Homo sapiens: one gene and its partners. The protein of the gene in region 1 purifies or fractionates together with the protein of each later gene. This does not show direct contact. Each region holds a gene or a part of one and is shown on either strand. Other genes may lie near its edges.

Region 1 (8,303 bases):
AATGTTTCCAACCATCAGCTTTGCACAACCCACCTGGGCATCTAGCAATCCAGCTGGGCACTTTCTGCTTTGTAAATCATTGCTGGCAACAAAGCCTGGCAATTATAGAGCTCAGCTGCTGGTTGTGCTAACAATGGTCTGGACAGCCAGCAACACCGTGGCCCTCCTGTGTCTGTGCGACGCATCAACGTGCATCAGGAGGGAAGCAGCCACTGCCAGAGGCAAGTTAGCAGGCTAATGCCTCCTCACACTGCCTCACAACCCATAACCAGTACCTTTGGGGAAAATTTTCCCCACAGAGGAAGGACAAAGGGGTTTAATTTCTCTGTTATATGAAGAACCAGTAAAAGGACAGTTTTATAGCTCTTCTGAGTGGAACAGACCAGGCTCAAATCATGCGCTTGACTGACTCATTGCCATGGTTTACACAGGTCCTTCAACTGCCAGCTTTAAGTCAGATGCCTGCTCACAGGGACTCATCCAACAGTAGGTTGGCTTTAGAAAAGCGTTCTGTACCTCTGAGAAACAGGACCTCGATGAAGTCTTCACTGATGTCAATCAAGAATCCTTTCTGGGGGATTCACACTGTGTTCACTACACAAGGGCATAAGCACAGGCAGGAAACCAAGACTCAGGCCTGGGTACAAATCCTGACCTCCACCTGCCAGCTGTATGACTTCAAGTAAGTGATTTAACCATTCTCAAGTGTTCCCATTTGTAAAATGGGAATAATACCCCCATCTTACAAGGCTCCAAAGGGATTCAATGAGTGAACAGGGTCTCACTCTGTTGCCCAGGCTGGAGTGCAGTGGCACGATCATAATCATTGCTCACTATAGCCTCAAACTCCTGGGCTAAGTGATCCTCCTGTCTCAGCCTCCCAAGTGGCTAGGACTACAGGTGCACATGACCATACCTGGCCAATTTTTTAATTTTTGGAGAGACGGGGTCTCACTATATTGCCCAAGCTGGTCTTTAATTCCTGGGCTCAAGTGATCCTCCTGCCTTCACCTCCCAAAGTGTTGGGATTACAGTCATGAACCACCACGCCCAGCCCCAATATTTAACGAATGCTCGTCCCTTCTGTTACCCCGAGTGGGATTGGAAGGTTGGTGAAAGGCTGCCTTATATGGAGCAGGCCTCATGGGGGTATTACACACAGGGAGAAGAAAGAAGCTCATGGGAGGGAAAGTATGGAAACTGACAGTGGCAGCTTCTGCCTCTTCTATTCTTGAGAAAGTTACACAATGTGAGTGACAGAGGCTGTCCCAAGTACATAAAGGACTAATCTGTTTGCAAAGGGAGGAAATAGCATAGGATGAAGATTGTAAGTTGTTTGAAGCTTCTTTCCTAATTACCACTCATAATGAAAATTTAATTGCCAAGTTAAAAGCAAATTTCACTTTTTCTGTCATAGAATCTCTGCAGAAACTGGCACATTTTGTTTGAACAGGAAATCAAAGTTATTTTAATGCTTAAATGAGATCTAAGGAGCTGCAGATGTTTCACTGGGAATAACAAACTTCAAAATTCTGCTTTACTGGGTTGTAGCAATTCATGGCTACAGGGAGAAAGAAACGCTGTTTTAAGCTGAGTAAACCAAAGCAGTGGGAGGAATTCAAATCCAAGTACCCCAGTGTTAGGCACTCTGGGGACGAGGTGTAGGGAGAGGGTGGTACAGAGAGAAAATTTCTGGCATAGAGGCACTTACAATTGAGTAAGAGAGAGAAAAGCAGGAAATATCCCAAGACTAGGAAACTGAAATTTAAAAATTTTGGGGTCATGGAAGAATAGCGAGAAACAAAACACATACTGTTGCCTCAATTCTGACCCACATGTGCATCAGCTCAGTCAGAAAGACTGCTCACCTGTAAGGTGCTGGTGAGGAAGTTGTCTTGGGAGACAATGTCTACGAAGAAGTCAGCGGGGATCTCACCAAGCTGGTGGTACAGGATGGAGATGAGGTTGATGTAGAGGGTGTGGTGCTTCATCATGGCTGCTTCTGACCGGCACAGGAGGTTCAGGAGCCGCTTCCAATGCTCAAATGCCTCGTACACATTCCCCAGCAGGAAGCACACAAAAGCAAACTGGAGTTCACCTGAAAGGTGCAGAGAGGAGAAGTGATTCTGAGGGAGAGGAGGACCAGCTGACACTCTCCATCACTATTCACAAGGCCATGAATTCCACTGGACCTCAGCAACAGATGAGCTTTTATCCTTGTCACTCCTGCAGAGCCTGGCAGGAGATTTTGCACCTAACAGGTACTCAATAGATGTCTGCTGAACCGCTATGAATTCAAGCCATGGGAAACCAACCTGTGGCTTTGGATTTCTATAAAATCAGACTGCTAGAGAAGAGGTATTCCCAGTATTTGCCTGGCATTTTAAGTTTACAAAATGTGTTCATGGATATTATGCCAAGTGGATTTCAAACCTGGCTGCCCATCAGAATCACTGAGAGTCTGTTAAAAGTAAAGCTACCCAAGCTTCACCCTCAGAGGTTCTGGTGGAGGAGAGATGATGGGGCCTTCGTATCTGTAGCTCTAACAAGCTCCCCAGGTGATTCTAATGTGGATGGTCTGCTCCAGGGTCAGGAAATACTGCACTATACCATGTAACCCTCAGCCCAACTCCACAAGGCGATCAGGAAGATGGTATTTGCCTCATTTCATAGATAAGGTCAAGGGCTTGCCCAAGGCCACACATCTAATGCTTCACAATGTGGGCAACGGAAAGATAAAACAGATTCTCCATTGGGTGGGAACAGTTCTGGAACCTCCCACAAAAGAAAAATTCATGAGTACTTATTCCAGGGTCAGCCTGCCAGGCAGATTATTTTTGTTTGCTTAACCACAGGGCTCTGTGATTTAATCTCTATGAGCAGCTTGGTGGCTAAGAGCATGGGCTCTGGAGCCAAACTGCCTAGCTTCAAATCTTAGCTCTGCCACTTAGCAGCTGTGTGACCTTGGGCAAGTTACTCAATCTATTAAGGCCTCAATTTCCTTATTTGAGGGTTGTAGCAAAGATTACATGAATGGATATAGTACATGTATAGCATTTAGAATAAGACCTGGCACAAAGTAGCACTCAAAAAATATTATGTTCCCAATTTCTATCAGATGCCCATCTCAAACAGAGACCTGATGATCCAGACACCACTGTCCCTGGGCAAGTAACTGGGTCTCTGGTTACCACAGAATACTGCTCCTCATCACAGGCATTCTCTCTACTTCAAAGGTGGCTGGAAATTTAATGAGGTATACATACATGTGGGCCATAAAAAGAAGAGATGTACTCAACACCAAATACCTCTTTAAATGCATGGCGTTTGATCTGTGCCACCTCCAGAGACCTGGAAAAACTAGCTCCCTGTTCCTAAGCATACGGAACTAAGTTTGATTTGTGTGAATAGCTACCTGGTTTAGAAATTTTGGATTTCTGACCAATATTTTCAAATATAGTCAAATTTTCTTTGTATAATATAGGTTAATGATTTGCTTCTTCAGCTGGCTTTACTTGGTTTGTGAAACTAAATATTAGCCTATTATTTGCGTTTAGGACATTTATTAAATTTGTGCATTTCTGACTTTATCTAAAATTAAATTATATTTTTCAAAGAGGTGTGATGTAGATTCAAAATTATCCCTGGACAGGTGCGGTGGCAGGGATAGTCCTAGCCCTTTGAGAGGTCAGTGGAGGAGGATTGCTTGAGTTCAGGAGTTTGAGACAAGCTTGGGCAACACAGGGAGACCCTATCTCAACCAAAAATAATTAGCTGGGCGTGGTGGCACACACCTGAAGTCCCACCTACTTGGGAGGCTGAGGTGGGAGGCTCAGTTGAGCCCAGGAGGTTGAGGCTGCAGTGAGTTGTGATCATGCCACTGTACTCCAGCCCATGTCACAGAGTGAGACCTTGTCTCAAAAAAAAAAAAAAAAAAAAACCAACAAAGTTATTCCTGTAACAGACCTTTTCGCAAGATATATTTTGAAGAATTGAAATGTTTAAGAGGTAGAAAGACAGGATTTCTATTCATTTTTAAGCCAGACTTTTAAAAGTTACTTATTATACGAAAATACTAATGCATTAAGATGTACCTGTTAAAGGCTGGGTGCGGTGGCTCACGCCTGTAATTCCAGCACTTTGGGAGGCTGAGGCAGGTGGATCATGAGGTCAGGAGATCGAGACCATCCTGGCCAACATGGTGAAACCCTGTCTCTACTAAAAATACAAAACAAAATTAGCCGGGCGTGGTGGCGGGCGCCTGTAGTCCCAGCTACTCAGGAGGCTGAGGCAGGAGAATGGCGTGAACCCGGGAGGCGGAGCTTGCAGTGAGCCGAACTCACACCACTGCACTCCAGCCTGGGCGACAGAGCAAGACTCCGTCTCAACAACAACAACAACAACAACAACAACAACAACAACAACAACAAAAGATGTACCTGTTAAAATATAGGTTATATCATTAGCTGAGCCAATGATATAAAAAGTCCTGTCTAGGCACAGTAATCCCAGCACTTTGGGAAGCCGAGGCAGAAGGATCACTTGGGCCCGAGAGGTTGAGGTGGCAGTAAGACATGATTGTGTGACTGACTGTACTCCACCCTGGGCGACACAGCGAAACCCTGTCTCAAAAAAAAAAAAAAAAAAAAAAGAAGTCCTACATTCAAATTTCTCACTGAACTTCCAACAAGAAAATATGCAAATTACCTGGAAAATTTATAAATATATATAAAAATAGCTGTTCAAAATGTGACACATATTTGCTGTCACTAGTATTTAAGAAATAAAGAAATATAAACAAGGTGCCATTTTTCAGCTATCCAATTGGAAGAGGCCTTTGTTAAACTGTCATGCCCAATGCTGTCAAAGGTGATGGGCAACAGGTTCCTACCAGCCAGCAAGGATGCAAAAACCTTCTCCTGGCAACATGCACAGTCTGACCCAGCAATTCTATCCCTAAATGTATGTGTAAGTACACACGAGAATGTTCACTAGATGATATATGTATATATATTTTTGAGACGGCTCTTGTTGCCCAGGCTGGAGTGCAATGGCGAGGTCTTGGTTCACTGCGACCTCTGCCTCCTGGGTTCAAGTGATTCTCCTGCCTCAGCCTCCAGAGTAGCTGGGACTACAGGTGCACACCACCCAGCTAATTTTGTATTTTTAGTACAGATGGGGTTTCACCATGTTGGCCAGGCTGGTCTCGAACTCCTAACCTCAGGTGATCCCCACCGGCCTCAGCCTCCCAAAGTGCTGGGATTACAGGTGTGAGTCACCACACCCGGCCACTTGATGATACAATAGAGAAAACAGGGAGCATCTCAATGGTCCATAACAGAGAACTGGTCCAATAACTATGGAACATGAAACAGCCACTAAAAAAGTGACTGTTAGTGACATGAAAAAACATTTATATTAAGGCAGATTACAAAGTAATAATATACTTCAATCCTGTTTTTATAAAAACTCATATATATACAGACACATATACTGAATTTTTAAGACTGAGAGGAAGTACATAGAAATAAACAGAGAAGACATTGAAATGAAATACATAGAAATACACAGAAAAAAAGGAACGTAAATATACCAAACTGTTTAAATGGTTATTTCTAAGTAGTGAGATTTGAAGTAAATTTTGTTTTTCTTTTATGATTATTATCTATCATTTTTGTAATAAAAGGGAAGGTAACAATAAAAACTGTAATGATTAAAAAAAAAATCACTGTCCTGTTCTAAGCCAGTTGAGAGACCAACATCTTGAGGGTCAGGAGCAAACTGAGCAGGCAGGTGAGAGGCTACAACGAACACAGGTCTGGCCCAGAAACCAAGAGTCCTGGGTTCTCGTCTCAGTTCAGCCACTCAGTGGGCCAAATCTTTTCCTTCTGTAGGACTGGGCTCTATCAGTGGTTCCCAAACAGAAGATTATCTGCACCAGGTTCACCTAGGATGTTTGTTTATTAGACAGATAGAAACTGCGGAAGCCCCACTCCAGATCTCTCAAATCGAAATCTCCAGGGCTAAGGGTAAAGACACACCTGTATCTTCAGCCTCCTAGCCAGGTTTAGTTGCTGCTGGACTAACACAAGATGTACTCCCTATTCCAAAACACCTCTGCTAATATCCTCCCCTTGGCCCACTCCCAAAGAGCCTTGTTCCTTCTCACCAAGCACATCCTGGGGGCTGCTGGGGAACTGCTTGTTGAGCACAGTCTCCAGGGCATAGCTCAGGTCCATGCTGTGCTTGGTTATCTCAGCTGGCGTGGCACCCTCTGGGAACATCTGCGTGGGCAGCTCTGAGAAGCGGATCTCTGTCCCGGCTCTGGGCTTCATCTCTGGTAGCCGGGCCAGGCCCTCTTGGTAGCTTTTGCACTCAATGCCACAGCGGGGTAGATTCTGCCCCACGCGGTCCTTGGTGTGCTTCATGGAGAGCACAGGTAGCACATCGGAAAAGGCACAGATCTGTCGATTCTCGGGCTGTAGCTTCTCCACTGTGGCTTCGCTGATGAAGTTGGTGAGTGAGATCCACTTCTTCAGGGTGGCATATGGGTAAGGCCCCAGGAACTGGTCCAGCTCCTGGAGGTTGGCCCTCATGGCCTCCACCTCAGACTCTGGGGCTGGGGACAGGTCTACCTCTTCCCTGAGTGTGCTCCAGCGCAGCACTGTCAGCCCCCGCTGGTGCAGGCTAAGGAAGAAACCCATACGAGGGCCTACTTCCTTCGGATTAGCCTTGTCCACAGAGCTGTAGTGGAGGAAGTGGATGCCTGGAGGGATCATCTTCACGCCCCGGAACTTGGGCCCGACCTCCCAGGAGTTATAGTCAATCCCAAACTCTGTTCCCTTGGGCATGTTCAGGATGACCACAGTGGCCCCTTCAAAGAAGAGGCGCTTGGCTAGCTCAGGATCCATCTGCACGGCAGCCATGGGGCCAGTGGTGGGTGACCAAAAGAACCCTTTTTCTTTGATGAACAGCTGAGAAAGAAAGAAACCAGAGTTAATCAGAACGTGGGGGAAAGATGCTTCATTTGCTAAGCATTCTGTATGTGCCAGATATTGAGTTAGACCCCTGACATAATTATTTCCCTTAATCCTCATGACAACCCTGCATTGAGTTTACAGATGAGAAAAACGAGGATTAAAGGAAAGGATTTTTGTGTTTTGGCTTAACATGCAAGGACACTCACTTCACAGCTATAAGATACCAGTGAAAGAAAAGTGACATGCTCATGGTCATACCAGGACCCAAATTAGAATCTGGATACCCTGCCTGCAGGCCAGTGTTCTGTCCACCGTCCATTCTTAATATCTTCTCAGATCTCTTTCTCACAACAGAGGGTGAGGGTGGAAAATGCCTGGACAGGTCACTCTAAACTATATGCCTACATCATTTAAAACTACAATTCTGCCAAAAAACTATCCCAAAAGATTTGGAAAGATTAAATCAAGTACATATCCAGTTTCCCATAAGCCTCAGGGAAGGCCCAGAAATGGACAGACGGTAGCAAGTGGAGGCTCAGCATCTAAAGTTTGTTCAGGGTCTAGAGAGCTTTCCTACCACAAATCTCCCCTCTTCTTTCACTCATAAAAAACCTAAACTCCAGGGAGTGAAACAACTTCCCAAAGAGCCCACAATCAGTGGTGGCTCTGGACCATTCATCCAGAATGAATTCAGGTGGTAAAGCTAGCCTAGGAAGAGAAAGCTGGCCAGAAGAGAAAGAGCTTAGTACACTTATTTTACCTACTTCTGAATATCCCAGACATTGCCTCTGGGATATCGGCAAGAATGGTACCAACATGAACAAATGTAAACAAACCATTATGCAACCTTCTAGTCCTAAGATACCTACCTGACTAATTTAACAAATACTCACTGAGTGCCTGCATTGTGCCAGGATCTTTGCCAGGCCCCCAAAAAACATCACAGATTAAGACAGTCACTGCCCTCTAGGCAATTCCAATCTAGCCAAGACGTCAAAATTTCACACACAGAAAAACGAGCTGCCTGTTTAATTGTTTACTTTTTTTTTTTTTTTTTTTGAGACAGGGTCTCGCTCTGTCACCCCAGCTGGAGTGCAGTGGCGTGATCTCGGCTCACTACATCGTCCACCTCCCGGGTTCAAGCAATTCTTGTGCCTCAGCCTCCCAAGCAGCTGAGACTACCGGTGTGTGCCACCACACCTGGCTAAGTTTTGTATTTTTAGTACAGAGAGGGTCTCACCATGTGGCCTAGGCTAGTCTGGAACTCCTGACCTCAGTGATCTGCCCGCCTCGGCCTCCCAAAGTGCTGAGATAACAGGTGTG
Region 2 (5,144 bases), on another chromosome or scaffold:
TGATCTCAAAAGGTCATTGCTCTCTCCACTGCCAGCAAACCATCATTGCTTTGGGGAAATCAAAGTGCCTTCATCAGGAAATGTTGAGGGATAATATGTGATGGGACTTGATTGTCTTGTTAGATTGGCAGCTTGCCTTTACCTGGGCTGAACCCAGCATGCAGAAGGGAAAAGCACTCACAAAAGAGAGGTCCTGAGATTTCTTCATATCTTGCAGTTAGAAGAAAACAGTTCAGGGTCCATGTGTATTACCATCTCCCAATCTTTTCTATCTCTATGTGGGTGTGTTTGTGAGCGCATGTGTACACATCCCCAATCTGAAAATACTGATAGAAAGGGGAGTGTGCGGAATTCCTGGTTATGAGTTTCCCAAACTTACCATGGAGTAACTGTTTGTTTTTTGATTAATGTGTTTTTGGAAAAGAAAAGATGAGAGTGGCTAACAGCAGGAGCTGCAACATTGAACTTTGCTTCTCAGTAGTGAGTGGGAAAAGAGCTTTGCTGTAGAACCCCAAGGATATCTGAAAGCTGAGGCAGAAGAGAGCAGGCCTGGAATACTGAAAATGGCAGATAAATAAAAGAAACTTTGGTACAGGACCTACCTGACCTGAGAATATATACATGGGCAATAAATTATGAAGGTGCTAAGGATAAATAGAACCCATCTGGGTCCATGATGCAGAATAGAAAAACAGGTAAAATCTTGTGAGCCTGGCTGAAAGTCAGTCAGCCGTGGCAACCAGAATAAAAAAAAATTTCATTTATATTTTTGCCTATCACCCTTTCTCTACCCAATATTTAATCCTCAATGAAGATAAACCTAATGTACCACAAGTGCGATGGGGGGAAACCTTTTTCTCACAGTTGAGCTGGGACGGCATTCTGGCCCCATTTTTAACATGAGAAATGTAGCTTCAAAACAAACAATAAAAATATATTTAAAATAATTATTATTTAAAATGTTAAAATGTTGCACAATATCATCTGATGTGTTACTTTAGTCAATGTGTAACACTTATCCTCTTCCTTAGTTCATTTCAGTGAACACTAGGAAGACAAAGGATTGGAGTGGGATATGGTATATTTAGTTTTTATTTATTTATTTTTGAGACGGAGTTTCGCTCTTGTCGCTCAGGCTGGAGCGCAATGGCGCAATCTTGGCTCACTGCAACCTCCGGCTCCCGGGTTCAAGCTATTCTCCTGCCTCAGCCTCCCAAGTAGCTGGGATTATAGGCGCCCACCACCATGCCCGGCCATATTCAGTTTTTATTAGTTCGTGATAGTAAGTTCTCAGATGAGAACTCTACTACACCATTCTCCTAATTCCTCCCTTGGTCACTGGAGAGGGAACAGTATGAAACTATTTCCATTGTTTTTACTTGGATAGGGTAAGATATAGTAAAGGCATCTCTCTGCTGCATACAATAATAAAGAAGAATCCAGAGACCTAGATTATAAAAACATGGTCAGTATATGGAGCTGTCTGTAAAGAAGACTTTTTTTTTGCTTTTAATGGTGAATTTTATGATATATAGATAATACTTGATTTATTTTAGGAGGAATATGAGCATCATTTTAAGAAATAAACATTTCATCTTAGCAAAAGATATATCAGTTATATTAAATATCAAACCAATTAATTAATTAAAACAATTAAGTACAGTATCAGGTATGAAATATCCAAAATAGGCAAATCCATAGAGACAGAAAGTAGACTAGTGGTTTCTAGGGGCTGGGAGTAGAAGGGAATGAGAGACTATTAGTGAGTATGGGGTTTCTAATATTCTAGAATTAGATGGTAGGGATGGTTGCACAATTTTGTAAATATACTAAAAACCACTGAATTGTATAATTTAAAGGGTAAATTTTTTGGTATGTGACATATCAATATAGCTGTTATTTACAAGTAAATAAGTTCTATATCTTGCTTCAGGTACATACATACATGCAAAAATTCACTGACTGTACACTTAAGATTTGTGCACTTAACCATATGCATGTTATGCCTCATTAAAAAAATTGAAAAAGTGAATGAGTTTTCAAATCCAAATTTGTCAACTTGAAATTTTGATCTGAGGATGAATAGCAGTAAGGGAGAAATTTAAATATTTAGAATTACTCCAAGGGTATATTGTGGTAGGGTATGTCTTTAGCATGAAGTGTGTGAATTTCATCTCAAGGTTGTCTAGGGGCTAGATTCTACCCTGCCGAGTTCAAAACCTGTGTATAACCCACAGCTGAGATCACAAAGACTTGTGCCAAGAGGGCCACATTTGGGGCTCATGGAGAAGTCAATCTGTAAAACTTGTAATGAAGAAACATTTTTACTAAATGAGTAATCTAAACTAGAAATGAACAGAATCATATTCAATATTTATTTAAAAAGAAAAAAGAGAAGCTAAATGTGCTGGTTAATTTTTTGTTGGCTTACTTGTTGGTCTGTGATCGGTGTTGTCAGGCAGCTGCACTCCCATGCTTTGTAAAAGATTGGAAGCAGGTCCTGCCAGTCCAGCTTGGGAGCTATAGGATTCCAATATATTTGAAACCAGGTTCAGGTCTACATCTACTGGTGCCATAACAGATTCTCCCGTACCAGAATCTTCCTCATCTGAATTGTTATCGGTAGTCTGGGATACAGGTTCCTTATTCATAGAGGGAAAAGAAAATTATGGGCTAATGTATCATTAGGTTGCATGGTGGTTACAATAAAAAGATAACTAAGCCACAATGTAAATTTGCATTCCAAATTAAAAAGGAAACTTCTTATCCTTGGTGATATAAACTGAAAATGAAGTCTACAAGTTATATGGCCTAGCACACATAATAAAACTTGGTTCTAAAGGTTATAACACATTTCTCTCCAGGAAAGATTCCTGCAAATCGAATAAATTGCATGTCTATTTTGAAATAGCTCAAGGGCTAATAGAATTAAGAAGGTACATTTATAACTTGTCTAAGAGTCTTAAAAGAAACAAACATAAAAGTGAATATTAAATGAAATAATAATGTAAATTTTCTTCAAAATGAAAGAAGCGAGTGTTCCTTTCTTTCCCCCCAGTGAAAAAGCTTAAAAGTAAAAACACAAGGCTTTGTGGTTCCAACCACAAAGATTCTAAATTGTTAGTTGGGCCTCTGATTCCACAAGCTGGGGAAAGGATTTGAAAGATTACAGCTCGATAGACTTTTATGTCCTTGCTACCCAAAGCATTGTCCATGGAGCAGCAGAGTCTCCATCGCTTGGGGCTTATTAGAAATGGAAAAACTCAGCTGGGAGTGGTCGCTCATGCCTGTAATCCCAGCACTTTGGGAGGCTGAGGTGGGTGGATCACTTGAGGTCAGGAGCTCCAGAGACTAGCCTGGCCAACATGGTGAAACCCTGTCTCTACTAAATATACAAAAATTAGCCAGGCACGGTGGTGCGCACCTGTAGTCCCAGCTACTTGGGAGGCTGAGGCAGGAGAATTGCTTAAACCCAGGAGGCAGAGGGTGCAGTGAGCCAAGATCGTGCCACTGTACTCCAGCCTGGGTGACAGAGGGAGACTTCCATCTCAAATAAAATAATAATAATAATAATAAAATAAAACAAAATAATAATAAAAAAAAGGAAAATCTCAAGCTTCATCCCAGGCCTACTTAATCAGAATCTATGTTGTAACATGATCTTTTGGTTTATATTCGCATTAAAATTTAAGAAATACTGCTTTAGATAAATCTAATGTATGGTTTCTACTAGATTTTGACAATTCTGGAAGTGACTATAGTTTTAAAAGTGGTTTAGATGATCAAAGCAAGGAGAATTAACATTAATTAAAGGCCTATTGTAGGTTTTACTGCTGTCTAATTTGGTTCTCATGTTAATTTTATGATATGAGGATTACTGGTTTATAGATACATTCACAGTGGACAGCTGAGCTAGACTTCAAACCCTAACCCATAAGACTCCAGGGTTCTTGCTCTTTCCATAATACCTCTGTTTAGGATTAGACAGTGGTGGCATTAAAAACTAGGATGAAAACATAAACGGAAGGTGAATCCTAAATTTGGCTCTAAATTAGGGAAAAATACAAAATAAACTGTTAAAACTGGAAAGTTATTTGAATGTTTAAGATCCTGTTTATTTACTTATGTTATTTTGTTTTAATCCACTGTGGCCCAAGGCATAGTCTCAAAAGGTCTTGAGAACATGTGCCCTCTCTTTTTTAAAATCCATTTAAGCTGTAGTTTTTTTAAACTACTTTTGAAAAAAAATGTATTTAAGAAGTAGTAGTGTACAATCGCATTCTAATTTGAGCATATTATATGACTTTTTATTTTAAATCCTGATAGATAACGTAGAATAAGTAATATAATGAAGCTTATGTTTTGGAAAATTAAGTCTATGATCCTTTATCCTACCAGAGTTAGGAAAACAATTAACATTCTTATTTATTTCAAATCTCACACACCAAAAAAAGAAAAACTATGATAAAATATGGTTTTAGCTATCTGACATACTAGACTCAGAAAGAGAAAGAGGTTAAAAACACACATACCACTTGGTTCCTAGTGGTGAAACTTTTGCTGATGCAGGTGTGTGCTAGTTCCTGGTCCATCTGGGCCATGTATGACTTGAGATTATCAAGTGTTCCTTTCAGGGAAGCCTCTTCGCCAGGTTCGTGTGTTTCAAAGTCCAAGTCATCATCACTATCTAAACATTCAAAGTCTTCATCATCCAGATCATCAGAATCTGACTCATTAGGCCTTGGCCCTACACAGATCCCAAGAAAGAAAGAGCCACTTAGTAATTATTATTATTATTATTATTATTATTATTATTTAGTTACTACACATCTCAAAATAATTAGAATGTTACCCACAGAAAAAGACTAATACACACAGTCAGTCTACTTCACAAAAATCCCTTCTACAAATGGTAATGCTGGCAGATATGTGTGCATTTAATGTTGTGGAAAAGCGTACAAGCTGAATCAAAAGATTTAGCTTAAAAAAAAGTGAATTCAATTAATTAAAATATTTTTCTTAAAAAATTTTTAAAAATACCTAATAAATGAATACATTTTGATGTAAACATTCAAGCCATACAAGTATTGTCTCCAATCTCACTCTCTCCCCAGAGGTAAGCATCTTTTAGCAGTTTCCGGGTA
Region 3 (8,303 bases), on another chromosome or scaffold:
GATGTGACAAGCATTTCTAAGCTCAATAGAAGGGCTATATATACCAATCCAAGCAATTACATTTTGCATAACCTAAAATCCTCTATAGTCCTATCTAAAAGGTCTCTTTGTTAGCCTTGAAAGGACAGAGACCGTATTTGTTCCTAAATACCATAATTTTAATATGTTAGTATCTGGTGAGTTATAACTCTAATTTATAAAACACTGCAAGCACCCTTCACTATAAAAAATTGATGCACCAAAGAAGCTAGATGGAAACAGTTTGCTAGGAAAAGTGTCCCAGTTATTTTAATCCATTTGATAGTTTTACTATGTGCAATGCACATTTTATTATAAAAGACAAAACAGGCTGGGTATGGTGGCTCACTCCTGTAATTCCAGCACTTTGGGAGGCTGAGGCGGGTGGCTCACCTGAGGTCAGGAGTTCGAGACCAGCCTGGCCAACATGGTGAAAACCTGCCTCTACTAAAAAACAAAAATTAGCCAGGCTTGGTGGCGGGCGCCTGTAATCCCAGCTACTCAAGGGACTGAGGAAGGAGAACTGCTTGAACCCAGGAGGCAGAAGCTGCTGTGAGCCGAGATCACGCCACTGCACTCCAACCTGGGCGACAGAGCCAGACTCCATCTCAAAAATAATAAATAAATTAAAAATACCTATTTGTAATATGTGAGGAATGAGACATCAAAGTTCTGCTATGGAAAGGAAAAAAGTAGTTCCTGGAGTTCATAAATGGTTTTTCCTTCTTAGGTATCAAACACCTTGCCTATAAATGTCTGACACCAAGCTGTCTCCCACATACTCATTGCTCAGGGAAACCGTAAGATATTTGAGATCTTCTGTAATCAGCTGTAGTACTATAAAACTTTCTGAATAAACCTGCTAGTCCTGTGGCCTGTGGCTACCAAATCATGTGCCAAGATGTATCAGGGCCCCATGGAGGAACTCACAACTACCTTGGGATATTTTAAATTTCAGAGTAATTCAGTGATACTCAACATAAGCCAAGACACTAAGCAAACTATTAGTTTCAGGTTGTTCAGTTTCAATATGAGATTGTACTGCAAACCCCTCCATTAAGTTTCATCTTCTAAAAACTGAATTTCTGGTGGTTGCTATAACTCAAAAAAACACAGGTACCCACCCCACCAAAAAAAAATAATAATAATAATGGGGAACAAGGAGTGAGATGATAGAAGTCATTTCAAAGTTTGAGAAGTTATATAGTATCCAAAAGCCATACACATTCCATTGATAGGTATGGTTATATAAGAAACTATATATATTTTTCTTTCCAATAATGTAAATTCGTTTTTCCAATAGCTACTAGGCTGCTAAGACAATATAGTTATGTTGCTTGGATACAGCTATGTCATCAAAGCAACTGCTAGTTACTCCTTTTGGCTTAAGAGCACAACAAAACTCCTCAGACACCAAGGGCACTATATACCAGGAAGGCTTGTGAACCTCTGTCCTAGCGAGTTATTTTATGTGGTAGTTTCCACTCTAAGATACAAAGGTGAAAGCTGTTCAAGGTAATGTTTTATGGAAAATGTAGCACTTTTTTTTTTTTTTTTGGGTGGTGCGGAGAAGGAGTCTCACTCTGTCGCCCAGGCTAGAGTGCAGTGGCGCTATCTGGCTTACTGCAACCTCTGCCTTTCATGTTCAAGCAATTCTCCCGCCTCAGCCATCCTAGTAGCTGGGATCACAGGTGTGCACCACCATGCCCAGCTAATTTTTACATTTTTAGTAGAGACGGGATTTCACCACGGTGGTTGGCCAGGCTGGTCTTGAACTCCTGACATCAGGTGACCTGCTCACCTCAGCCTCCCAAAGTGCTGAGATTACTGCCATAAGCCACCGCACTTAGCCAGCACTATTTTTTTTTTTTTTTTTTTTTTTTTTGAGTCGGAATCTCACTCTCTCACCCAGGCTGCAGTGCAGTGGCACGATCTCAGCTCACTGCAACCTCCACCACCGGGTTCAAGGATTCTTGTGCTTCAGCCTCCCAAGTAGCTGGGACTATAGGAGCGCGCCACCATGCCTGTCTAATTTTTGTATTTTTAGTAGCGATGGGGTTTCACCATGTTGTCCAGGCTGACTTCAAGTGATTTACCTGCCTTGGCCTCCCAAAGTGCTGGGATTATAGGCATGAACCACCACGCATACCCACTTAGCACTTTTCTATCAAGCAACTCTTGTGGCTTTCCACATTCCGTCTTTTGAGCACTCTTTTTTTAAAAAAATTACTTTCTTGCTTTGGTTTTAGACCCTGAAGCATTCTTCTTTTAACATCCCCAGGAGATAAAAGAATTTTTCTTTGTTCAAGAAAGACTCAAGGTCAAATATCACTCTCTCACTGCCTCCATAACAAATTTTAGACTCTCAGGACTCCATTATCATGTTGTCAAGTATGCAGAAGCTAGTTTAGATTATATAATAAAACAAACTGGAAGTACAGAGACATGGTTAGTTACTTTGCAATAAAAGGACCGCTGGAGAAATTATTGTCCCTTTTTGTGAAGTGAAAAAAAATAAGCCTTCTGTCAGAAATGCTGGGTTCCAATCCTATTTTGGCTTTTTTTTTTTTTTTGGGGGGGGAGACACAGCCTCTCTCTGTTGCCCAGGCTGTAGTGCAGTGGCGTGATCTCGGCTTACCGCAACCTCCACCTCCACCTCCCCCTCCCCCTCCCCCTCCCAGCCTCCCAAATAGCTGGTATTACAGGCATACGCCACCTCGCCTGGCTAATTTTGTATTTTTAGTAGAGACGGGGTTTCTCCACGTTGGTCAGACTGGTCTCAAACTCCCAGCCCCAGGTGATCCATCAGCCTTGGCCTCACAAAGTGCTGGGATCATGGGCTTGAGTCACTGCGCCTGGTCTGCAGTTTTTGTGTTGTGTTTTGAGACGGAGTTTCACGCTGTTGTCCAGGCTGGAGTGCAATGGCGTGGTCTGGGCTCACTGCAACCTCCACCTCCTTATTTCAAGCGATTCTCCTGCTGCAGCATCCTGAGTAGCTGGGATTACAGGTGCCCATCACCACACCCAGCTAATTTTTTGTATTTTTAGTAGAGATGGGGTTTCATAATGTTTGCCAGGCTGGTCTCTGAACTCCTGACCTTAGGTGATGCACCCATCTCAGCCTCCCAAAGTGCTGGAGATTACAGGCGTGAGCCACCGCACTCGGCCCTGTTTGTAGTTTTAATGTGTTAGCCAACTTGTATAAAGGGTCAGCCAGTAAATATTCAGCTTTGCAGGCCACAAATATCTCTTATCTCATTCACATTTTTTTTTTTTTTTTTTTTGGTCTCATTCTGTTGCCTAGGCTAGAGTGCAGTAGTGTGATCTTGGCTCACTGCAACTTCCGCCTCCTGTGTTTTTTTAAAAATATACATTTAAAAAATGTAGGAATCATTTTTGGTTCATGGCCTAACCACAGGTTTTGATAATTTAAATTTGTTTTATCTGGGACATGATCATATAGCTTGCTAAGGCTTTTTTTCTTTTTCTTTTTCTTTTTCTTTTTTGAGACAGAGTCTTGCTCTGTCACCCAGACTAGAGTGCAGTGGCGTGATCTTGGCTCGCTGCAACCTCTACCTCCTGGGTTCAACTGATTGGCCTGGCTCAGTCTCCCAAATAGCTGGGACTACAGGTACGTGCCACCACGCCCAGCTAATTTTTGCAATTTTAGTAGAGACGGGGTTTTACTATATTGGCCAGGCTGGTCTCGAACTCCTGACCTCGTGATCCGCCTGCCTCTGCCTCCCAAAGTGCTGGGATTACAGGTGTGAACCAGCACTTTTTTTTTTTTTTTTTTTTTTTGAGACCGAGTTTCACTCTTGTTGCCCAGGCTGGAGTGCAATGGCCTGATCTCGGCTCACCGTAACCTCCACTTCCCAGGTTCAAGCGATTCTCCTGACTCAGCCTCCTGAGTAGCTGAGATTACAGGCATGCACCACCACGCCTGGCGAATTTTTTTTTTTTTTTTTTTTTTTTTTTTTGAGATGGAGTCTTGCTCTGTTGCCCAGGCTGGGGTGCGGTGGCCTGATCTCAGCTCACTGCAAGCTCCGCCTCCTGGGTTCATGCCATTCTCCTGTCTCAGCCTCCCGAGTAGCTGGGACTACAGGCGCCTACCACCATGCCTGGCTAATTTTTTGTATTTTTAGTAGAGACAGGGTTTCATCGTGTTAGCCAGGATGGTCTCAATCTCCTGACATTGTGATCCTCCTGCCTCGGCCTCCCAAAGTGCTGGGATTATGGGCGTGAGCCACTGTGCCCGCCTGAATTTTTTGTAATTTTAGCAGAGACGAGTTTCTCCGTGTTGGTCAGGCTGGTCTCGAATTCTCGACCTCAGGTGATCCACCTGCCTCGCCTCCCAAAGTGCTGGGATTACAGGCGTGAGCCACCGCGCCTGGCCTGCTAAGGCTTTCATAAGAAAGTATCACACACTGGGTGGCTTAAACAGCAGAAATTTATTTCTTCACATTTCCACGAGGCTGAAAATCCAAGGCGAAGGTGTCAGCAGGATTAGTTTCTTCTGAGGCCTTTCCTTGGTTTGCAGATAGCTATCTTCTTTCTTCCCTCTGTGCTAATCTCTTTATATAGGAGGACAACAGTCATTGGATTAGGGTCTATCCTAAGACCTCATATTTACTTGTCATTTAAAGACACTTTCTCCAAATACAATCCCATTCTTAAGATGTACTGGGGGTTAGGACTTCAATGTATTAATTTTGAGGAAACTGATAAAATTCTAGATTGCTGAATTTGAGGAAAGGAGATTGATTCTCCTGGTTTCAGTGAACTTAATGTAAAAAGTGAAGCTCTGATGTACCAGTGTTTTTTGTTGTTGTTGTTTGTTTTGAGACAGAGTCTCTGTTGCCCAGGCTGGATTGCAGTGGCATGATCTCAGCTCACCGCAGCCTCCACCTCCCGGGTTCAAGTGATTCTTGTGCCTCAGTCCCATCCCTCAAGTATCTGGGACTACAGGCCTGCATCACCATGCCCAGCTAATTTTTTTTTTTTTTTTTTTTTTTTGAGACAGTCTCGCTCTGTTGCCAGGCTGGAGTGCAATGGCGCAATCTCGGCTCATTGCAACCTCCGCCTCCCAGGTTCAAGCGATGCTCCTGCCTCAGCCTCCCAAGTAGCTGAGATTACAGGCGCCTGCCACTGTGCCTGGCTAATTTTTGTATTTTAGTAGAGATGGGGTTTCACCATGTTGGTCAGGCTGGTCTCGAACTCCTGAGCTTAGGTGATCCACCCACCTCAGCCTCCCAAAGTGCTGGGATTACAGGCGTGAGCCACCGTACCCTGCTTTTTTTTTTTTTTTTTTTTTTTTTTTCCGTATTTGTATTTGTAGTAGAGTCGGGGTTTCGCTGTGCTGGCCAGGCTGGTCTCTAGCTCTCCTGGCCTCAAGTGACCCACCTGCCTTGGCCTCCCAAAGTGCTGGGATTACAGGTGTGAGCCACTGCACCCAGCCAAGTAACATAATTTTTGATAGGACTAGATAAACGGCTAACTCTACTAAGCATTGTTTGGTTTTTAAATCTTTCCTATTATGAAATTGGAATCATTCTGAAACTAAATCTTGTTAGACCCATAGGTTTTAACTTGGAATGTAGCTGTTAGGGTAAAAATGTAGTTTTTGTTTAAAATTGTAACAAACTGCCCTGAAATAATGCTATAATGGTGTCGAAGGTTAGTATGTGAATGTTTAGTTAATGAATTCCAGCTTGACTTTCCCTACTTTATCCTTTTGTAGGCAGCCTGCTTCTGCAAAGTGGTACGATCGAAGGGACTATGTCTTCATTGAATTTTGTGTTGAAGACAGTAAGGATGTTAATGTAAATTTTGAAAAATCCAAACTTACATTCAGGTAAGTTAAGCTTTTTATCCAATGATGTAAAATAGTCATTCACACAACTGAATAACTTTGACTGGCTTGTCTTTTCATTGAAGTTATTATTAATCTTTGTCTCTTTGAAGAGGCTTAATTCTTTCTTTATTATTTTATACAGTTGTCTCGGAGGAAGTGATAATTTTAAGCATTTAAATGAAATTGATCTTTTTCACTGTATTGATCCAAATGTAAGTAGTCTTTATGCTTTAATCCAAATTTTAGTTGTGAGGAAACAGACATACCAAGTATTCTTTTTAGCAATGAGCATTAGTTCTGTTTTTCTTAACAGTGAGGCAAACTATGTATATTTACATTTTGTAGAATATTTCCTCCAAAATTGGTTTCTGCATACTTTTTGTTTTTGCTATCACTGTTTGGGCTTAGAGTAGTATCCTTGAGGCTCGTCTCATCTTTTTTATTTGTTTTGTTTTTTTGTTTGTTTGGTTTTGTTCTTTGAGACTGCTGCAGTACAATGGAGCGATCCCGGCTCACTGCAACCTCTGCCTCGTAGGTTCCAGGGATTCTCCTGCCTCAGCCTCTGGAGCAGCTGGGATTACAGGCACATGCCACCATGCCTGGCTAATTTTTGTGTTTTTAGTAAAGACCATGTTGGTCAGGCTGGTCTCAAACTCCTGACCTCAGGTGTTCCACCTGCCTCGGCCTCCCAAAGTGCTGGGATTACAGGCATGAGCCACTGCGCCCGGCCAAGGCTTCCCTTATCTAAGAATAGAATCTTTAAACCATTCTGTGGTTATATCATTTTTAGTTAAAGTTTTTAAGGTTTTATTCTGTTTATCGTGTGCAGGAAAGAAAAAAATGGTACCAGGTTAAACTTTAAACTTTATTGTTGTGCAGATTATTTCAGTAGGAAATAGAAGGGAAAAAAAAATTTTTTTTTAAATGAAACTTAAAGGGGGTTGGGGCAGTTGGATAGTTTGAAGTTTTTAGTAGTCAAGGGCATGTTTCAGAGTCCAGAGAAAATTTAGGTAAAGAAATGAGAAAGGTGAGAAATGACAAGCTATTTTCTATCATGTAGTGATGCTGGAAAGATAAATGGTATGATGGTCCTTTTGTTTTTAGGATTCCAAGCATAAAAGAACGGACAGATCAATTTTATGTTGTTTACGAAAAGGAGAATCTGGCCAGTCATGGCCAAGGTTAACAAAAGAAAGGGCAAAGGTAGGTTTCATTTTCCTTTTTTGAAAAGTTTGATATTTTTATTTTAGGTAATAAAAGATGTACTTATTTGATGTAAGGAATATGGCTGTGTTTTTGTTTCACAGCTAAGTATAAAGCCTCATGTTCATGTTTTTTGTCTACTCAGTTTTAATACGAAGTGTGATCAGAATATCAGTTATTAACTGGTGTAGAATCTTTTGTACTTAAGAGACAGACTTTGCATAAATTACTCAGCTATCACATGGGAGGGGACAAAGCTTGGTGAAAAAATAATCAACTGAAAATAGTTCTTACTAGTAAATTTGTTTTCAAAAGGTATGTTTAACAATTTTCAGTGTTTTTTTTCCCCCAAAACAGGGTCTCTCTTTGTCACCCAGGCTGGAGTGCAGTGGCACGATCTTGGCTCACTGCAGCCTCAGTTTCCCAGGCTCCAAGTGATCCTCCCTCCTCAGTCCCCCAAGTAGCTGGGACTGTAGGGGCATGCCACAACACCTGGCTAATTTTTGTATTTTTTGTAGAAAGGGGTATCACAGTGTTGCCCAGCTTGGTCTTGAACTTCTGGGCTCAAGCAGTCTCCCCACCTCAGCCTCCCAAAGTGCTGGGACTACAGGCATGAGCCACGACACCAGCCTAGTCTTTTTTTTTAGGTAGTCTCATGCCACTCATGCCAGAGTGCACTGGTGTGAACATGGCTCACTGTAGCCTCCACCTGGGCTTAAGCGATCCTCCCACCCACCTCACCTCTCCAAATAGCTAGGATTGTAGGAATGTGCCACCACGCCCAGGAAATTTGTTTTTTTGTTTTTTCCCCAGATACAGGATCCACTATTGCTCAGGCTGTCTCGAACTCCTGAAGGATTACACAACTAGTCTTTCCACCTTGGCCACCCAAAGTGTTGGGGTTACAGGTGTGAGCCACCTCATTTAGCTTAGTCTATTCTTTGTGTGCTAATTACATGCCCTCCTAAAAATACAAAGTCACAGTTCAAAAAATATTGTTTTGCCAGGCACCAGTAGCATGTGCCTGTTGTAGTTAAAAGCTACTCTGGAGGGTGAAGTGGGAGAAATACTTGCGCCCAAGTCTGGGTTGCATTGCCATATGTCAGGTAACCACGCTAAGTTAACATCAGTACGGTGTTGTCCCAGGAAGCGGGGACCACCAGGTTGCCTGAAGAGGGTAAACAAGACCCTTGGTCAGAAACGGAGCTGGTCAAAACTCACATATTGA
Region 4 (9,191 bases), on another chromosome or scaffold:
GGCCTCCTTCATGACGCTCACGAGCTGCACCTTCTGTGGCTCCTTAAGCAGTGACTGCTCACAGCGAGTGCATTCCTGGATCCCCAACTCCATGAGGGCATAGCAGGCGGTCACCACATCCTCTTTCACCTCCGTGCCCGTCTCCTCCAGTGCCAGCCGCACTTCCACGCACGCCAGATTCACCAGCAGGGCCAGGAACTTGCTCCCGGAGCTGCCCGCCGGGATCCAGTCGGAGCCGCAGGCGTGTGCCAGGCGGGCTGCCAGCTTCAGTGCAGGGTTGCGCTGCCAGGAGCTCAGCTTGCTTCCCAGGATGCGTGCCAGCCCGGCCTGCAGATCCCGGTAGCATTCAGGGGGCACGGTTGTCGGGGGCAAAAAGAGGGGCAGCAGCTGGCAGAGCTCAAACTTGCTGGCATCCTCAGCTTTCTGGAAATCCTCACTGAGGCCCCGCAACACGGCCAGCAGGTCGGGCTCCGCCTCCTTCCAGCACTGTGTCTCGGCAGCAGCCAGCAGCCCCACCAGGAGTGCCAGGGCCTGGTCAAAGCCATAGCCGTGCCCCAGGTATGCCTGGCATAGGGCAGACACGGTGCCACCAGCAATGAGGTGCCGAGGCCCTCTGGGTGTGCCTGCTACAGCCGTCAGGCACTGGTAGGTGTCATCAATCATGGAGCGGCGGGCAGCATCGTCCGGGTCCCCCCGGGCTGTGAGGAAGGTGCTAAGAATGGGAATCTTGTTCAGGACTTGGGGATGGGCGGCCAGTTCAGGGTCACTGCAGAAGCAGGCCAGCAGGGCCACACCCAAAGCCCGCAGAACATGGTCAGGGCAGCCATCCGGCGCCTCCTTGGTGGTCAGGAGACGATTGGGGAAGGTGAAGCCGACAGCATCGAAGATCCGCCGCCGAGTTTTGGCATCTATGTCACCTGCTTTGACTGCCTTGGTCACCTATAGGGGGTATGTGCTATCATCAGGATGAAAGGAAGAAGTGGGAAAGACTGTCCCTCTCCTGCATCCTGGGGCACTGAGGACTAGCAAGATGAGGTTATGCAACAGGACTCATCTGAGGTCATTTCATCCAGCTCCTTTTTTCTCCTTAGAGGCAGATAAATGTGACCTCTGGGATCCCTCTCATCTGTGACTGTCCCATGGAAGTGAGGTCTAGTCTTCCTCAACCATTCATTTGAGCATTTCAACACCTGGCCAGTTGAGAAGTTCTTCCTGATGTCTAAATGCCCACAACCTGGGATGGAAGGGGCTTAGAACTCAATGTTTTAAGATCTCCCAAGGATTTAAAGTCCTTCCTTAATTGCTCCCTCCAGAGAAGTCCCTGATCCATTTCTGCCACCTTCTCAGGGGAAATGGCTCCTGTGTCTCGCCGCTCCGCCTGTCAAAACATTTCCCCTTACATTTCACCTAAACACCTCCTCTGCTGCAGTGTGAGCCCTTGACTCCAGAGCCTTCTCCTTGTTGCCATGGCAAACAAGCAGCGGCTGTACTCCCTCCTCCCTTCACCCCCCACACACAACCCCCCCTTCCTAGCACTGCAGCTTCTGCTCTGCTGTCCCCAGCTTGGGTTCCTCCAAAAAGGCTAAGCCCCAAACTAGCTCCCATTCCTTAACCTACCTACTGCCATCCTGGCCTTCCCCTAGGACCCCTCCCCAGCCACTTCCAGCCCTGCTACTCTCTCCAGGCCCAGAACAACCATCCCCAGCCCTCAAGTACTCTGCACTAGTTACTACCTGCTGCTGTTACCCTATGAGTCAGCTTCCATCTGCTCTGGGACGCCCCAGAAAACAGACCCAGGCAGCCCCTAGTGCCACAGCCTTATTCAGTCCCATTCTCCTCTTTGCCCCCATTCTCAGGGGGAGCAAAAAAGAGCACAAAGGTAGGGGTCTTGGGCCTTCGTTGGTGCCTCCAGGGTTGCTAGCACTACGTACATATCCTTGGGGACTCACTGACCCCATTCCTTGGGGGCCCAACCACCCAGCCCTTCCCACCTCCCAATTTTCAGCCAGTTCCTTACTAGCAGCAGGGCTGCAAACTGCTCGCTGTCATTCTTGGCCTCACGGAGGGCTCCCAGGTAGCGCTCCAGGGTGGGGTTTCGGCCCTCTGCCTGGTTCAGAGCTGGCTCGCAATCCGAGGCCATGATGCTCGCCTTGCCCAACTGTGAACACAAGAGGGACTGAGCATCCCTCTGCAGAGGAGGGACGGGGGTGGGGTGGGGGTGAGAGTGGAGGATGGAGGGAGGGAGGGATTAGCACAGAGGGAGGGGAGGAGAGAATCTGGAGGGGTGGACTCCTCAGGACTGACCTCCCCCCAGAAGCCCCTTTAAGGGGCTGGATCTGCAAATCCTTAGGGATAAAGAAGGGACCCTGGTCCAAGGTCACCTCCAGAAAGCGGGAAAGAAGGACCATGCATGCTGCTGCTCAGCCGGACAGCTCTCCTCACCAGTCTCCTGGGGGTGGGCGGGAGCTGGCCCCACTGCTCAGCTGTCCCCCTGGCACCGGAGGCTGGGTTTTATCTCCCTCCACAGGGACACAGAGGGAGTGAGTGGTGAGGACAGACAGGGAGAAATGGAGACATACATGGGTGAAGTTCGATTATCCGGACTCAGGCTGACATGGGAGAAAAGGACACCCCAGGCTTCCTTTCCCCTCCCTTCTTCAGAGGCAGAGATACGCTTCAGAAGTGAGAATACAAGACGCTCAACAGGGAAGGCTTGGAGGCCCCTTTGGGGACCCCACCCCTCCAGCCAGGGCTCTCAGTCGCCCCCGCAGGCTCCTTGCCTCCTCTCCTTTCCCTCCCTCGGGTAGAGGCTGCAGCAGCAGCAGCAGCGGCGGCGGCAGCAGCAGAATTAACCCCTTGCGCTCCCTCTTCTCGCCCTCCCCGTCCCGCTACCAGCCTGTGGATGCCGGCAGGGGCTGGAGAAGCAAGAGGGGGTCCCGGATAGTTCCCAGGACAACGGAGAATCCAAAAGCCGGATAATCGAAGCAGGGCTGCTGAGATGGGGAGATGAGAAGGGGAGGAGGGTTCCTGGCGGTCACCACCTGTCCCGCCGCAGCCAGGTCACAACACGACATTGATGAAGTCACGACAGGGCGGCGATGAGATCACACTTCACGATGGCGCGGTGATGTCACGGAGAGATCACGTCAAAATCACGACATGGGAGACAGCCCCCAAAGATGACAGGGCAAATTAAAAAAAAAAAAGATATATATTGAAAAGGGCTGTGACAAAATGGAGTCTCGACAGGGCACGATGGTGTCGCGATATGGCGCGATGGAGTCGCGATAGGGTCCCCGGGGTGTGTCGGCATCGATCAGCGCCGGCTCGGAGAGGCCCCGGCTGGGATGCAGGGGAGGGCCCGAAGGGGGCTGAGCTCACCAGGCTGCGGCCCCGAGCGGCGAAGTCTTCTCCCAGCGCGATGCTCCGGGAGCCTCGGGCCGCTGCTCACGCCGCGTTGCCCACTCCTGGCTCCAGGCTGCTGCAGCTCCACCCCCACCCCCGCACCGCTCTTGACGAATCCGCGGCTGCTTCACTCCGGGCTCTGGCCAATGGCAAGTCAGGGTGCTAAGCAGTAGGGGGTGCCGCCGTTGCCGCCATCTTGCTTGTGGGTATTGCCCGAGTCTGGGGGCTGGGGCTCGAGCGAAGGAGGCAAGGTGCAGACTGCCTCTGGAGAGCGGGCGGCGAGAGGCTGGGGGCCCAGATTCCTTCGCTTGTGCGTAGTTTTACCCGCCCAGCACTGCCCCTCCTCCCCCTTGGTCTCGCGGCCGGCATTGCCCTTCCCGGGGGAGGGGCGGGAGGGCTTGGTTAGCATGGAGAGTGTGTTTCCGGGTCGGTCCCGGGGAGGTGGGAGGAGGCGGTGTTTCCGGCCGCCGTCGCTGTCCAGGGAGGCTGAGGCGAGAGGTAGCTGTCCGGGTGGGGAGCCCGCACTACCTTCTTCCTCTTCCTCCTCCTCCTCCGGGTGAGGGGAGCGAAGGTTGGGGGTCCCCGAGCCCATGGACCAGGAGGAGGCGGAGGCCGCCGAGAGCCGGGGCCCCGCTATGTGGCCCTGAGCCCCGGTAGGTGGCCGGGGGCGGCTGGCTGCCAGGCCGAGGACCATGGGCTCAGGGGAGGGGCAAGCGGGACGGGCGATGTCAGCGGCTGCGCTGGCCGGATGTTGGGTCCGGAGGTGGCGCCCCTGGCTCGGCCAGGGCAGCCAGCTGCTTCTGTCCTTGCAGGTGCGCAGCTTGGGTCCCAGGCTGAACCCCGCTTCTCTCGGGCCTGGGCCTAGTCATGCAGCTCCCTCCATCCCCTGAGAGCCAGGCAGACAGCCGGGGTTCGGGGCGCTGCCGTCCTTCTTCCACCTTCGACCTCTGCAGCCTAGTCTTTAGTTGCTGTCTCTGATGTTTGGTCTCTCCACCGAGATAGAAAGTTGGTGCAGAATGAAGAGGGGATGGGGTTGAGCACGATGTGTCCATTATAATGTGAAACCTGCCTCATCCACGATTTTGAAAATTATGCCCCACAGAGGGTCCTGTAGTGGCTGCAGTGAGCACAAAGGTGAAATGAAGGAAGTCAAAATTGATAACCTCTGGCGGGATTCCAGGAACTCTTTGGCTTCTGGTCTCATAGTGGTTGTGTCCAACTGACAGTAGTTGCAGTTAGTGAAGAGCATTAGCTGACTCTCCTTGTGCTCTCTCCTGTGATTAACAGACTGAAAACTAGGAACAAATTGGAAAGACGACCTCCCAGAACAATCTGTTCATTTTTCCAGCTATTTGGAAAACAGTGTCTGCAAATATAAGCAAAGCTATTCATGGCAGTCTGTTCTGTAACTTTCCCAAATATCTGAGACTTTTTAAAAAAGAGCTTTATTCTCGATTACTCATACCAACTGAATAGATTGTTTCAGACGTGCTCCATCGTTGTTCAAACATATCTTATCGCTGTGTACATAAATGGAGTTCCACGTATGTAGTTGACAGACTGAACTGTGATACATCCCCCATCAACCTGAAGTATTAAGTAAACATTACCCCCTGCTCTGTCTGAACAGCTGCTGCAACAGAGAGTGCTTTTATTTTGGGTGTACTTGTAACGCCCTAAATGCCAGAACTATTGTGAGCTTCTCTAGATTTTCATTTGTCAAGTATTGTGGGGGTGTGTGTTCTCTCCCTGGGTTGTTACCCTTTGATTCAGTAACAAACTATTCGGATCTTGGTGATGTGTTGTTGTTCTTGCGTTTGGTCAGCAAGCCTTTAACTGGACCCTAGCAGTGATTTGTGCCCTTAGGCAATTATAGGTTTCAGAGGAATGACTGGTTAGGAGTTCAAATGAAATTAACTCTGCCTTTCTCTTAGACGCAAGATTTATTAGACATGGCACTTCTAATCAGCTTGTTAGTCCAGTGGTGTTTATTACTCCATTTTTCAAAAGCTATTCATTTCTTTTCTGCTTCTCCCACCCACCTGTCAGGCTATTGATGACAGCTGTTGAGTCACCTTGAGTTTTAAATCCTTTTGTGGTAGGCAGAAATGTGTTGGGTAAGATTCATACACACCCATACATGCACACATGCATACTCACTCGTTCCCTCTTGGGAGGCTAGAGAAATTGCTGGATGTACTTTCTAACTTAGGCTCCATTTCATAATCTCTTGAACATGTCTCTGGCCCACACACCTCCTTTCTGCCCCCTGCTCCCTGAAATACAACTACAAAACAACTAGAAATAGGAATGGATGGAAGTGAATGAGAACGATGAAGTCCTTCAGATGCATGTGGTTCTGCAAAAGCCTTTTCTTGGGTGGGCTGCACCTTAGTTTTGCAGCTGTGTGTATGTCTGTGGCTGTTTCTTGGTATTAGTCAGTATTGGTATCCAGCCCAGGCAATGCTGATCTCCCTGTATGCTGGCCGTGGATAGGAGTTAGGGGTTGGCAGCCTGTGTCGTTTGCTGGATGTAGATGACAGGTACATAGTTGGACAGAAGTTTTTGAATTGCTTCTTCAGAACTCAGTCAACCCTCATAATGTTGCCAATATTTACGTACTAATTTAGACAATATAGCAAAGTTTTATATGAGGGGAGAAATTTATGGTAAATGAGTTTTTCTGCTGGAAGAGACCTAAATAATCCAGCCCCTAGATTCTGGAGTAGCCAGCATAGTGCCTGACGTAAGTATCTGTTGAATGCAGGGATTGGGGTGGGTAGCATTGAGGTGTAAATTGAATAGATTTTCATGATAATAGTGGTGGGCGGAGACAGTAGCAGACTGGAGAGTGCATGCCCTGCCTAAAGACATTTGCATTCAGAAATTTAAAAAATACTGGGCCAGACATAACCCTCAGGTTACTTTACCTCTGAGGGTGCAACCTCTTCTCCTCAAAAGTAAGAAAGTGTGTTTGGTCAAAGTCACAAAGCTGTTAGTAGCAGAACTGCAACTAAAACTCAGAGATCTTCTTGTCTGCGGGCTGGTACTCTTTCCATTCTACCACATAGGTGATTTACTGTTAGATTAAAAAAAAAAAAAGGAATATAAAGTTTCAGTTTTCAGTGGATTCATTTGATATCCCTTGCTGTGTTGTTATTCTGATAATTATAGGCTACCTCAAAGCCCAGGTTTAAAATTTATAGGCAGGGTTGAGCCGTTAAAGACAAACTTGAAATTTTTCTTTCCCCTAATCTGTCATATTTTCTAGCATTCCACATTTCCAGGAATTAATTATTAATTACTCGGCATGTAATTTCTTCTCTTTCTGTCCTTCTAGTGTACTGGTTCTGCCTGTCTGGAGGGCCATGGAGAAGAGGCTGGGAGTCAAGCCAAATCCTGCTTCCTGGATTTTATCAGGATATTATTGGCAGACATCTGCGAAGTGGTTGAGAAGCCTGTACCTGTTTTATACTTGCTTTTGCTTCAGCGTTCTGTGGTTGTCAACAGGTACTATTTTCTTTATAGATTTAAGATTTTTTTTTTTAGAAAAGGGCATTTTATGTGAGTCCCTCAGTTCATTTTAAGGACTATTAGGAGGCAGAAAAAACAATCTGCTAATTGACAGAAATGGTCATCCTTTTGGTGACTGAGGTCTGTTGGGTTTATTTATTTGTTTTGTTTTGGAACCAGAGTTTAAATTGGATTCTTTTTCATAAGGGAGAATTGGCACAACCGTTTTAAGACTTGATAAAAGTCAACTGGGTATTTCCACTTAATGACTATAAAACCTTGAGCAAATTACCTATTATCTTTGAGGAAGGGTTATTATCTACCTCATGGTTTGATTTGAGGGATAGTATAATTAAAGCATGTAGCACAGCACTCAGCATGGGTGCTTAGTCTTGCTATTTGCCCAGGCTGGTCTTGAGCTTCCTTTCCTTTCCTAAAGGAATCTACACTTATGGGAAAAATGCGTTCCTTACTTTTTCCATAGAGAGGGGCTATGTTGATAGATTTTTTAGACTATGCTTTCCTCCTAGAGATTATTTCACCAGGGTAAAGCCTCTTGCCAGGAATCAGTGCCAAGAAGGCTAAATTTCAAAGGAGAATGCCCTTTCTTTCTTTCTTTCTTTCTTTCTTTCTTTCAAGTTCTTTTGTTGATATTGTGCTTTCATAGTATGAGTGTGAGAAAACAGCAATATGAGAAAGATTTCTGTGTATGCTGCCATTCTGGCCAGTGACCAAAAACCTTCTGCTGTAGAGACCACCATCTGGGATAACTAATCAGCCTTTTTCCCTTATAATTACAAAGATTTCTGTTGCTTTCCTAAAGGAATTGGTGGTCATGATTTTGAGACCCTAGTAATTATTGTATTTAGCAATTTCAGTAACATCAGCTTTGGGGTTTTTGTTGTCTTGCAGTGATGGTTGATGATTGCATAATTATAGCAGTGGAAGTTGTACTTGACAGAAAGCTGATCTACATGGTTTTTTTTTTTTTTTACCCCAGATGATGCTTTGCTGGGACAGCTGACTATTTCAGGTCAACATTTTATATAAGATCATTAGAATTAAATAAGTAATTGATTTAGCACCATCAGAATAGGGAAAAATCACTTCTTTAAAAAAAAGAGATGGGGTCTTGTCACCCAGGCTGGAGTGCGATGGTGCCATCATAGCTGCCTGCAGCCTCAAACTCCTGGGCTCAAGCTGTCCTCTTGCTTCAGCCTCCAGGCATGAGCTAGTATGCCTGGCTAATTTTTTTTTTTTTTAAGACAGTGTCACTCCATCATCTAGGCTGGAGTGCAGTGGCACAATCTCGGCTCACTGCAAACTCTGCCTCCCAGGTTCAAGCGATTGTCCTGCCGCAGCCTCCTGAGTAGCTGGAATTACAGGCGCACACCACCACACCCGGCTAATTTTTATATTTTATCCTTTTTATATTTTAGTAGAGGTAGAGTTTTGCCATGTTGGCCACACTGGTCTCAAACTCCTGACCTCAAGTGATCTGCATGCCTCGGCCTCCCAAAGTGCTGAGATTACAGATGTGAGCAACTACACCCGTCTGCCTGGCTAATTTGTACATTTTTTTAGGAGATGGGGTCTTGCTGTTTTGCCCAGGTTGGTCTCGAACTCCTGGCTTCAGTCGATCCTCCAACTTTGGCCTACTGAATAGCTGGGATTGCAGACACCAACCACCATGCCTGGTGTAAATCACATTTTTTGAAGCACACCTACCACATACCAGACTCCTAATTGTAAACATTACATACCTTATCTCATTTAATCTTCATGATAACCCAAAAATAGATAGTTTTCTTCTCATTTTATAGATAAGGAAATTGAGGCCTAGAGAGGCAGAATGACTTGGCCAAGGTCACACAGCAAGAACATGGTGGAGGTAGGATTCTAAATCCAGGTTTGTCCACTGTAGAGCTCATACTCTTTCTCTTCTGGTACTCTGCCTTCCAACCATAGGGGATGTTTTGGAGGACCAAAGGTTTTTTTTTTGAAACGGAGTCTCACTCTGTCACCAGGCTGGAGTGCAGTGGCGCAGTGCGATCTCTGCTCACTGCAACCTCCGTCTCCCAGGTTCAAGTGATTCTCCTGCGTCAGCCTCCCGAATAGGTGGGACTACAGGCGCATGCCACCACACCCAGCTAATTTTTGTATCTTTAGTAGAGACCAGGTTTCTCCATGTTGGCAGGATGGTCTCCATCTCTTGACCTCGTTATCTGCCCATCTTGGCCTCCCAAAGTGCTGGGATTACAGGCGTGAGCCAC

What was found.
Region 2: the proteins of AAR2 (region 1) and ECD purify together in Homo sapiens (affinity purification with mass spectrometry; 5 studies listed by BioGRID and IntAct, with this or other methods). This does not show direct contact.
Region 3: the proteins of AAR2 (region 1) and PTGES3 purify together in Homo sapiens (affinity purification with mass spectrometry; 3 studies listed by BioGRID and IntAct, with this or other methods). This does not show direct contact.
Region 4: the proteins of AAR2 (region 1) and NCDN purify together in Homo sapiens (affinity purification with mass spectrometry; 3 studies listed by BioGRID and IntAct, with this or other methods). This does not show direct contact.

Annotation. Positions count from the first base shown.
Region 1 is NC_000020.11:36,238,492-36,246,794, reverse strand, and holds part of AAR2 (protein AAR2 homolog), read right to left. Parts: intron 6,975-8,303; 5' UTR 6,927-6,974; coding exon 6,170-6,926; intron 2,099-6,169; coding exon 1,869-2,098; intron 1-1,868. UniProt on the Homo sapiens protein: Component of the U5 snRNP complex that is required for spliceosome assembly and for pre-mRNA splicing.
Region 2 is NC_000010.11:73,132,172-73,137,315, forward strand, and holds the end of ECD (protein ecdysoneless homolog), read right to left. Parts: intron 4,748-5,144; coding exon 4,533-4,747; intron 2,643-4,532; coding exon 2,412-2,642; 3' UTR 1,497-2,411; downstream 1-1,496. UniProt on the Homo sapiens protein: Regulator of p53/TP53 stability and function. Inhibits MDM2-mediated degradation of p53/TP53 possibly by cooperating in part with TXNIP. May be involved transcriptional regulation. In vitro has intrinsic transactivation activity enhanced by EP300.
Region 3 is NC_000012.12:56,670,521-56,678,823, reverse strand, and holds part of PTGES3 (prostaglandin E synthase 3), read left to right. Parts: intron 1-5,758; coding exon 5,759-5,872; intron 5,873-6,014; coding exon 6,015-6,084; intron 6,085-6,976; coding exon 6,977-7,075; intron 7,076-8,303. UniProt on the Homo sapiens protein: Cytosolic prostaglandin synthase that catalyzes the oxidoreduction of prostaglandin endoperoxide H2 (PGH2) to prostaglandin E2 (PGE2).
Region 4 is NC_000001.11:35,552,074-35,561,264, reverse strand, and holds the start of NCDN (neurochondrin), read right to left. Parts: upstream 3,467-9,191; 5' UTR 3,075-3,466; coding exon 3,042-3,074; intron 2,159-3,041; coding exon 2,018-2,158; intron 940-2,017; coding exon 1-939. Other genes in the region: KIAA0319L (dyslexia-associated protein KIAA0319-like protein), read left to right, coding at 6,774-6,915. UniProt on the Homo sapiens protein: Probably involved in signal transduction in the nervous system, via increasing cell surface localization of GRM5/mGluR5 and positively regulating its signaling. Required for the spatial learning process.